Linked DNA regions of Homo sapiens: region 2 is linked to region 1. The links come from fine-mapping of genetic effects on gene expression. A gene starts in region 1. The other region holds a variant in brackets. All regions are shown on one strand. Distances are between the middles of the regions. Region 1 holds the start of CX3CR1 (C-X3-C motif chemokine receptor 1). Region 2 overlaps LOC102724104 (a long non-coding RNA gene).

Region 1 (5,379 bases):
AGCCTGGATGGTAGTAATGTGGGAAATTAAATCTAATACTTTGCTAACCCAGACATTGTTCTTTCAGTGTGTTGTATTTTGCAATAAACAAAATACAACACACTGAAAAGAGACTTTCCATTTTCTCCTTAAGCACACTTTAAGGGGAAAACAAAGGTGGTCTAGGAAGATGTTTAAAGACATATGATACAGCTTTTCTTCCTTACTCACAAGCTAAAAAGCTGCACTTTGGCCAAACAAGATGAGGGGGTCGAAGCATCAGCTGTGGCCAGCGTGCCGTGAGAATCCCACCTGTGAAGCAGCCAGCAGATTCTGAGCCCCTCAAGAGGGCAGGTGGGATCAAGGTTCAGCTAGAAGCCCCAACTTTCCCCTGGCTCTTCTGGGCAGAGTGAGTGATGCCAGAGAGCCCAACTTCTCGGAATGCCTGGGCTGTGCTGCTAGGAATCAGAACAAGTCCTTGGGAAAGGCAGCCAAGATCTGGATTCTGCCATTCTGGTTCCACTCCCTCCTATGACCGTGACCTGCTGTGGAGCAGCAGAAGTTCCCCTCCTTGTTCAGCTCCTCCATTACAGGTGCTGGTTCCAAACGTCTCTGGACTCAGGATACTGGGTCAGAGGCTGGGGCTGGGGAGGAGCAGTTGGATGCCTGGATCCCAAGAAGGAGGTTTTTTGAGGCTAGGGTCTCTGGCTAGGGAGAACCATACCTGACATTGCCACTGTGCCATAGCTGCCTAGGGCCGGGCAGGCTTCCTCCTGGGATGGGGTGGGGTGAGGAAGGGGATAGACGATCGTCCTGACTGGGTCAGCTCTAATACGTTCTTTGCTTTCCTGCCCCTACAGCTCTGGATTCTTCACAACCTCATTCAATAGTAGTCAGTGTTTTTCAGGTATCCAAACTTTCTGAGGCTCAGTTTCCTCATGACAACAACATATATCGTTTCTTGAGCATCAAAGATGGGTCAGGCAGTGTGTTTGGGACTTCCTATACCATGCCTTTAATCCTTGCAGAAAGTTGACACATACCCATTACATGGCTTCAAAGGCTGATGGACAATCTCCATTTTAAAAGCAGGAAACAGACTTAGCAAGCCCAGTGCACAGTCACCAAGTGCAGAGCCAGGACTTCATTCCTGACTTCATTCCTTCATTCCAAAGCCAAGCTGCCTATGTCCCCATCTGTGAAGTGGGGCCAGCTGAGGAGCAGGGTTCAGGAGCAGACTTTGTGGAGACTGGCACGTGGCTGATGGATAGTAGGTGCTCCCATCCCAGAGGTGTGGCAAGTGCCAGGTAAGCCTGAGCACTAAGAAGAACCACACTGAAGTTGGGCTGAGACTATTTCCTGCCCTGCCTTCCTTTGTGAAAATAAAGCCAAGCAAAGAGGAAGATGAAAGAATCCACCCTAGCCTTCCTGAGCCCATTTCTCATTCCCAGGGGTTTTGAACCCCAATCCACTGCCCCCATTCCCAACCCACAGTGGTCCTCAAGGCTCTCCAGCACAGGTCCGTCACCCACCCTGCCTCCTCTCAGGAAACCCAGCTCCCTCCAAAGCGCCCTCTGGGCCTGGGATGCCCTGAGCAATGCAAGCTTTCTTGCCTGCTTTCACGTGGTTCAATTTTCCTTTTTTTTTGGCTCAATTTTTTTCTGCCTCAAGTTTTCTACCTCAAGTATTTCAAAAATTAATTTTTTTTTCTTTTCTTTTTTTTTTTTTTTTTTGTGGAGTGGGTGTTGAAAGAATCCTAAACTTTCTTAGCCATTCTCTGGACTGAGCTATAAACTCACAAAGCAAGGATTGCAGGCTCTGTGAGGCTGTGATTGCCAGAGGCAAGGCAAGAGAAATAACAAGCCGTGGTCAGTCCTCAGCTGGGGCCTCTGATGGATTTCCTCCTGTCTTGCACTCATAATTTCTTTCTGAAGACCATGTTTTCCACCCACACAAACCTGAGCCTGAGTATCCTCACAATGGTTATAACAACATATATCAAAATTGAACACTAAATTTGTGCCAGGAATTTATTAATGGAGAAACCCCGCCTCTACTAAAAATACAAAATTAGCCGGGCGGTGGTACATGCCTATAATCCCAGCTACTTGGGAGGCTGAGGCAGGAGAATCACTTGAACCCAGGAGGCAGAGGTTGCAGTGAGCCGAGACTGTGCCATTGCACTCCAGCTTAGGCAACAAGAGCAAAACTCCGTCTCAAAAAACAAAACACAAACAAGAAAGAAAACCCAAAAAACAAAAAACAAACAAAAACCCATAGATGGTACAAAAAGTGGAAGAAAAAGGAAAAAAAAACCCATGAAACTATCTGCAATGCAGTTTCCTAGAATCAACCACAGTAATCTTTTAGCTTTTCTCTATCTAAATGTTATACATATTTTATATTTATATTAAGTGCATTTATATTTATATTAAAATACAGATACAAATTTAAAAACTCTTTATTATTAAATTTTCAAATAAAAAGCAACTTTTCAAATAAAAGCAGCGAGAACCTCCTTATACCCAACACCTGGCTTCAACTATTAGCAACCCATGGTCAATATTTCCTCTATTTCCCACTTAATGTCTCTACTGAATTATTTAATTTCACCCATAAACACTTGTGTGCATCTCTAAAAGTTAAGGACTCTTTTTTGAAAAAGACTTTAATACAATTTCTCATCTCAAAAAATTAGCAATAATTCCTCAACAGCATCCAGATGCAATTTTTCATGCTTTTTTCAGTTAGTTTAAAATCATGAGCTTTTCTCCATGTCTCTAAAATGTAATTACTAATGCTTCTAATACTATTCCACCAGGTTGAGTGTATTATAAATGATCTGATCACCCCTTGCCTCCCACTCTTCCATCCCCTTGGACATATTTAGGCTACAACATCCCCAGGAAAATGGTTTCCATTGTCTGCACGTAAGCAAACAGGCATTATTAACCTATTAGCTGTCCACTGCTCCACCCCACCCACAGGTACCCAACTAGTCCTGTGCACCTACCTGGCGTGGACTGCCAAGGGAACCTCTGGATCTGCCAGTCAGCCACCCTGTCCTGCTCAGACTTTACCAGAGACGAGTATTTCCCTTTCCTTCCCTCTAAGAGCATTTTATTTGCAGAGTTAGCCAATAGTATCTTGTTTCCTGTAAGGGAGACTATCTTTAGATGCTGCCACAGGCAAGCTCAGATACTCCAGGGTGGAGGCCAGCTGCCAACAGGAGGGCCTGACTTTATAAACCTGGAAGATCTAAACCTCAGGGAAGACTGCGGAGCTGGAGGGAGAGAGGTGCCACTTACCCCAACCTGGAGGTGGGGGGCAGGGAGCAGGCCCTGCAGTCAGCAAAGCACAGCACAGTCAGCTCTCATTAATGGGGAGCCTTCAGGAAGCTGGGAGAGCTCATGGGGCCCTCAGCTTCCCTGCCCACGAGAGGGAGCCCAGAGTACTCACTGGACCACACTGGGGCACACACAGCTCTTCTCCTCAAAGTGCAGTCCCAGGCACTGGGAGCTTATTAAAGACAGCACCTCAAGCCCTGCCCTATATCTGCTGAATTAGAATCTGCATTTTAATGAAATTCTTAGAAGAGTGATATGCATACTAAGTTTGAGAAGCTTTGGTACTGAAGGCATCTAGTGAGTACCTTGCACCTTGTAGATGCTCGGTAAATATTTTTTTCCTCACCTCTCTGCCCCAAGGCATTTAGTGGCTCCCTATACCCATCAGTCAAGGCTGAGGACACAGCTTTCACCCAGGACCTGGCCTATGCTCCTTTCACAGTCTCTCCCCCTGCCACTCTTGCCCTGCAGTGGGGAGCCTGGTGGGCTCCGGCATCCAGCCATGCTTCTGCTCCCTGGCCTGGCCAGCTTGGGGCGACTGCAACGTGAATCTCAACTGCCACTGCCTCATCACCTTCCGATCACTTCATTACCTGCCTGACCCCTGGCATATGCTATATAATTCTGATCCATCCCTAACTAGGGCCTGGCCCATGGTGGCCTTCAATACACCTTCATTAAATGGTCTGTGACCCCTTCAAGGCCCCTCTGGCCCCTTGCTGCCCACATCCCAGCCACATCCGGTGCTCCCTTACCTCTAGTCGCTGTGGTGTTCCGAGGACAGCGGGTGCTCTGTGTGCTCCCCACCTTGCCCCTCCTCACCTCCCCCAACCCCAGGACAGAGCTGGGGGCTGCAGTGCAGTGCTGCGGGCTTGGTGGCCTGCTCATGGTGGAAGAAGTCCACCAGCAGTTTTCTTTCTTTGTTCTTGGTCTCAGTGTTTGGCCACCTTTCCCTGCCTTTGGCCAGAAGGCCACAGGACAAAAGCAGAGTCAGGCCGCTCCCCATCCACTTTCTGACACTGGCCCCTCCCCACCCCACACCACCCCTTGATACCTCTCCTGGGGTCCACTCAGCTGGGCTGGCTGCCTCAGCCCCTTCCTTGCCTCTGACTCCCCTCCTCTTCTGAGGGCTCCTTTCTTGGATCTGGCCAAGACTCTCCCTCTCTTCCTGTCCCACACTCTTGACGACAGTCTCATCCACCCCACATCAGTAATCCCCTCCGTGTTCATGAGCACACATCTCTACCTCCATCCAGGGCCTGGATAATTTCCCAAGCCCATCTAACCTTCTCCGTTCTCTGTCTTTCCTCTCACCACTTACCCCACTGGCCATTCTCCACCCAGAAGCCAGAGAGCTCTTCCTGAAATCCAAGTCTGCCAACTTAAACGCCTCCAGGGGTTCTCTCATCCTGGTTTAAGTCCACGGCCTGGTAAGCACGGCCCGCCCCTTCTCACTTCCTACTGTGCTCTCACCACTTCCACTTCCCCCAACATGCCTGTGCCCGTGGCAGGCTCTCTTCCCTTCCCAACTCACCTGGCTGTCCTGTCCAGGACGTGATTTTACCCTCTTTTAAAGCTAACGGCTATGTTCCACAGCTGCTAGCAGCACAGGGCTTCATGCTTGGCAAGCATGAGAACCAGCGTCCAGTGTCAGTTGCCTTGCCCCCAAGCCCCACAGAGTGATGCCATGGCTTGGATAGATACCTGTGAATGTGTGAGGGATGGGGAGGTTATAGGAAGGGAACTCTGACCTTGGGTAACGTGCCATTTTATAGCAAGCAGTAAGCAAGTCGGTTATTTGGCCCTGAGCGAGATGTCAGCTCATCCTTCAAGGTTGCTCACTGCAAACTCAACCCTGCAAGATGGACCAAGTGAAGAGCATTAGTGCTTTGCATTCTTGACACACTCATGGAGACAGAAAGAGCCTTGGCAGCCTTCCCCCTCCCTCCACGCCTCCTTGGGCCTCTGTAAAGGAGTCTCTGGCTCAGCGCTGGGAATTCTCTCCTCCCTGAACTCTTGTTCAACCCCTCCCCCGTACTCTCACTCTGGTACA
Region 2 (5,379 bases), 20 kb before region 1:
CCGTGTTAGCCGGGATGGTCTCAATCTCCTGACCTCGTGATCCACCTGGCTCGGCCTCCCAAAGTGCTGAGATTACAGGCTTGAGCCACTGCGCCCGGCCTGTAGAGCTATTTTAAAAAAGAAACCACTGTAGGTTTTGCCCTACATGGAGTGCCAGGGAAAGTGGATCATCTAGGATGACTCCGAGGTTTTGACCAGAGCAACTGGAAGAATAAAGTTGTCATTTACTGAGACAGCACAGACTGTAGGGGAGTGGGTTTTGCGATGAGTGCCAGGAGATGCTGATTCTATATCCAAGGGAAGTTGTTAGGGAATTGAATACACACATCTGGACTTCAGAGAAGTCTGGGCTGGAGAAAAGGTTTAGACCTTGTCAGTGTAGAGAGATGGCTTTGCGACTGGCTGAGAAAGGACAGAAGAGAAGGGAGGGGAGAAGAAGAGGGAAGCTGGAAGGAAAGAGGAGCAGATAAGTCTGGAGACTGAGCCTGAAGCCCTTGATGCACAGAGGTTAGGGAGGCAAGAAGGAACCAGAGAAGGAGACTGCAGAGGAGCATCCAGTGAAGTTGTTGGAGAACCGAGAGAGTGGCATCTCCAAAGCTGAATGGAAAAGCTGCTTCAAGAAACTTTGCCTAATTCTGCTAATGGGTCAAGTAAGGGGAGGCCTGATTATGGACCATGGGATTTAGCAACACAGAGAACGCTGGTGACTTTGACAAGAGTGTGTCTGGGGGAGGGTTGAGAAGAAAATTCAAGAATGAGCTCACCTCAAGGGGAAAGACAGGCCAGGGACATTGGGTTGCGGGCTATAGAAGGGTTACACATGGGGCAAGCTCATAGGGAGCTGTCTGGAGAGAACTCTTTTGAGTGCCTCTGCATGGACAGGAGCTGGGGGAGATGTGGTATCAAGGGGAGGCTCCTAAAAATGAGAAGTATTCTGGCCTGCTTGCATACCAATTATCCAGCAGAGGGGAGAGACAGATAATGCAGGAGAGGGGATAAATGCAGGAGGGGAAGGTTAAAGGGGCTGGGATGCATCGTTCAGGTGGCAGGTTTGGCTTTAGATAAGCGCAGGGACGATTCTTCCATGATACGAGGAGGGACTGCAGAGTGCACTGGCACAGCTGCAGGAAGATGGGAAGATGTGGTTGGGGTAGGCCATGGAAGTTCTTTTCTGGTTCTATTTCCTCAGTGAAATAATGCGCTTTCAAAGGGAAACTCATATAGTAGTGCTGGAAGTGTAAATGAGCCTTTTGATATTAGGTTTCCCAGTCTGGCAGCTGGGCATCCTCCTCCCCAAAGCAAGAGTACCGGGATATGCCAAGGGGTTCTTAAAGCTGGAACTCATGGATTTCCCTGGCTGATTGGAGCATCACTGCTGCCAGCAAAGCCCAAGGTATAAAGTATGCATAAAGTCACTATGGTTTGAACTTTTAATAAATTTTACTTCCATGTAACGTATAGATAATTTGTGAAATGCAACCGAGAGATAATTTACAAAATATTTAAATAAAGTTGCTAATGTTTGATTTTGTTCTTTCTTTTATTTTACAGGTGTGAGCTCTACATTATGCTGAGATGGCTATGTACAAGTATATCCAGAATGACGGTGGATACGTTGAAAGTCCAATCAACTGTGCTAAATCTTGAATCAGTTCTCTCTGTTGCCTTTTGCAGGTTGTTTAAGTTTTGTATAGAAGTGGATATTTTGAACATTGAAACTGCACAAGGGCTTTATGGTTGCTCTGCTCACCTCTATTTCTTCTTCTCCTGCTAGGAAACCCCATTATCCTCAGAACAAGTCTCTCCACCTCCTGCTCTTGCCTGATGCTGTATGGCTCTGATGGCTTGTCCTGTGTCCCCTTAGCCCAGGTGCTAAGTGGTCTCTGTTCCCTTAAAATAACTGTTTTGGGATGTTATGGGTCCTGTTTTAAAAATCCCCTCATCCCTCTTCTTTTCTCTCTTCTAAAGGGCAGCCTTACCATCTCCTTTTAAGAACAGAAGTCTTTTCTTTCTGCCTCTTAAAGTCAGTAGCTGGTTTGTCACCCAATAACAAAAGCCCACAATATCCTGACCTCAAAGACTAGGAAGGTAGGTGGTGCTAAGGTCAGGGATTGGGAGTCTTAGAGAGCCAGCAACACAGTGTCATCTCTCTGAAAAGTAAATTTCCAGTAGCTAGCAAGAGATTTACAAATGCTGAAATCTCTTAGTCTACTAATTCCTTTCATACAATCAAAGATATGTGCAAAGATTTATGTTCATCATACTGTCACTCCTCATAGAGAAAAGCATGGGAGTAACACCCA[T/C]GTCTGTCAGTAGGGCTTGGATGGATAAAGTCTATTATTGAGTCCTTTGCAATCATTCAAAATCATGTTTGAATATAATAGATGGGAAAATGATCATACTATAATGCTAATTGAAAAAAGATATAAAACTGTATATATGTTCTCATCTCAAATTTTTAAAAAATAAAAATGTGCTTATTTTATATATATAAACATATATATATAGTTTATATTTAAAAATAAAAATGTGCTTAACTCTGAAATTTGTCTTTTTGACTTAAGGATATATTATGGACATCCCTTTAGGGTCATATTTATAGAATTGACTCATTCTTTTAAATTATACTGTATTTTATTGTATGGCTAAATTGAAATTTATTGGACCATTTTCTTATTGATGAAATTCAAGTGCTTTTAGGTTTTGTTCAGTTTTTAAAATTGTAAATGGACAATTTATAATTATATAGAACTATGGGGTAAAAAGCACTGTTATGATTTATGAATACAATGTGAAATAATTAAATCAAGCTAATTAACATACTCATCATCTCAAATACTTAACATATTTTGTGGTGAGACCATCTGAAATTTACTCTCTTAGCAATTTTGAAATGTGCAATACTCTATTCTTAACTAGATTCACCACACTGTGTAATAAAACTCCGAAAAAGAAAAAAGCAACATATTCCTCCTATCTAGCTGAAATTTTGTACCCTCTGACCATCAGCTCTCTGCTCTCTCCCCACCCCCTACCATCTGTAACCACCATTCTACTCTGCTTCTATGAGTTTCATTGCTTTAGATTCCACACATAAGTGAGAACATGCAGTATTTGCCTTTCTGTGCCTGTCTTACTTCACTTAGCATCATGTTCTCCAATTCCATCCATGTTGTCGCAGATAACAGAGTTTCCTTCTTCTTAAAGGCTGAATTGTATTCTATTGTGTATATATGCCATATTTCCCTTATTCACTCCTCTGTTGATGGACACTTAGGTTGATTCTATAACTTGGCTATTGTGAATAGTGCTGCAATGAACATGGGGGTGCAGGCATCTCTTTAACAAACAGATTTCACATCTTTTGGGTAAATACTCAGAAGTGGTATTGCTGGATCATATAGTAATTCTATTTTTAGTTTTGGAGACACCTCTAAAATGTTGTCCATAATGGTTGTACTAATTCATATTTCTACCAACAGTTCACAACAGTTCCCCTTCTGCCACGTTCTTGCTGACATTTATTATCTTTTGTCTTTTTGATAAAAGCCATTCTGACAAATCTGAGATATATCTCATTGTGATTTTAATTTGCATTTTCCTAATAATTAGAAATGTTGAACATTTTTCCACTTACCTGTTGGCCATTCGTGTGTCTTCTTTTGAAAAATGTCTATTCTTATGTATTTTTTTTAAAATATGGTCATAGCAGAAAATAACTTCAGTGTTAAACCACAGTTATCTCTGGGAGGTTGAATATTGTGTAATTAAACATTTTTAATTTTAAATTGTATATTTTTCATGTTTTCTATACTGAGTATCTTTCTTTTAGAATCAGAAAAATGTACAAATAATTTAAAACAAACGCCTTGAAAAATGAACAATCTTACCTAGTATTCAAAGAAATGCAAATTAAAATGTTATTTTTGTTTCTATCTCAGTAAATAAGGAAATATGGAGTAAAAGAGTAATCTTCCTGCTGAGCATGTTTTGCGGTTGCCAGCGCTGCCCCGGGTGTGTCTGGAGGAACACTCCCTGTTGCCTAACAACTGCTGTAATGTAACGGAAATAGAAGCACGATGCCACACATCCCTCAGAAAACGACTTGGCCCTTGGCCCTCCTGTGGATGAAGAGTATATTGAAGAGAAACTGGATATTTCTAAATTTGCTAAGACTCGCTTTTCTCACTTGCTCTCAGATCACACTACTTTTGAGTAGCCCAAAATTTTGTTGCCAACTCAGCAAGTTAAGCAAACAATATTACAAATCATGTTGAAACTGAAGTGGTCCCCATGGGCCAGTGAGTACGGTGCAGGTGGAGAAAAAATTAGCTGCTGAGTTAGGACAAACTGCTCCAATTTTGAAGGCACAAATGGGCATCATCTTGGGCCCGGGTACTACCCAAGGTGGACCTCTCAATCAGGCTCTTATGCTCCCAGGTGTAGTTGTTGGGTGAACTCTCTCCCTGGATGCTCAGGGACAGCATCTCAGAGAGAGGTGAATGGAAAAACCATGAGACCCTGTACACACTCTAGGTGCAATGGATTACAAGGGTTGATAGCTCTTCTTAGTAACCGAAAGCCTATATGCTCCATCTTTCTTGATGGCAAGGTCCCTGGGAAGGAGACATTCTCTTAGAATGTCATTAAATGACCATAGAATAAGCATGAAGTGAGTGGAATTATGTGGAAGGGATTCAGCATTTTACCCAAGCACTGGGCAGCCCCTGGGTGTGGCTGTCCCTCCACAGTGGCCTGTCTGTCTAAGTCTTGACCCACCCACCCAGATCCTCTTGGAAGCCACTGATAGCATTTGCCTCTGGGAATTCTGCAGCCTTTGCTGATGAGTCTCAGTTGACACCATCTATCATTGCAGATACAGATGTCTCCAAAAGGCAATTGCCAAAGGCTGTGCCACACAGCACACACCTGTCCATGTGCAGATTGATTCTGTTAAACTCTTCAGCTATCTTGTGGGCTGCTTTTCCCTGCCTCATTATCTGCCTGCAGACCTTCCTTCTGTGTTCTCTGCTCTTAGAGGTCAGATTGATCTGTATTTTTATCAAGATGAGGAAGGAGATGGTAGACTGTGAATCAAGGATCTACCTCTCCCAGTAATTCACTGTGGCATCTTGGGGCACCTGCTGGCCCTCTCTGAGCCTCCATTTTCTTACCCACGAAATGTGGATTTGGACCCAGTTATCTCCAACCACCCAAGAGTCTGTGATTCTGCTACTAAGAAAAGCAAAAGGCAAGTACAAGATAGCATGTGTTTAGTTGCTGGGGAAAGCTCAGTCTAATATTAAAAATAATAAGTATAAAAATAATCACCACCATTCACTCGAGCTTGCTTTGCCAGTTCTGCACTGTGATCTTTGC

The links. PIP is the estimated chance that this variant, and not a neighbour inherited with it, causes the effect.
Region 2: its variant is the best candidate, but not a certain one, in a credible set for the expression of CX3CR1 in neutrophils (Naranbhai 2015, PIP 0.79).

Annotation. Positions count from the first base shown.
Region 1 is chr3:39,276,962-39,282,340 of GRCh38, forward strand. CX3CR1 (C-X3-C motif chemokine receptor 1) reads right to left here and starts at 3,075. Exons shown (of 2, transcript NM_001337.4): 1 at 2,993-3,075.
Region 2 is chr3:39,257,051-39,262,429 of GRCh38, forward strand. It overlaps LOC102724104 (a long non-coding RNA gene), which reads left to right. Exons shown (of 3, transcript XR_940742.4): 3 at 1,552-2,413. Among named protein-coding and RNA genes, the nearest start is that of CX3CR1, 20 kb to the right of the region's middle. The variant T/C (reference allele first, on the strand shown) is at 2,304.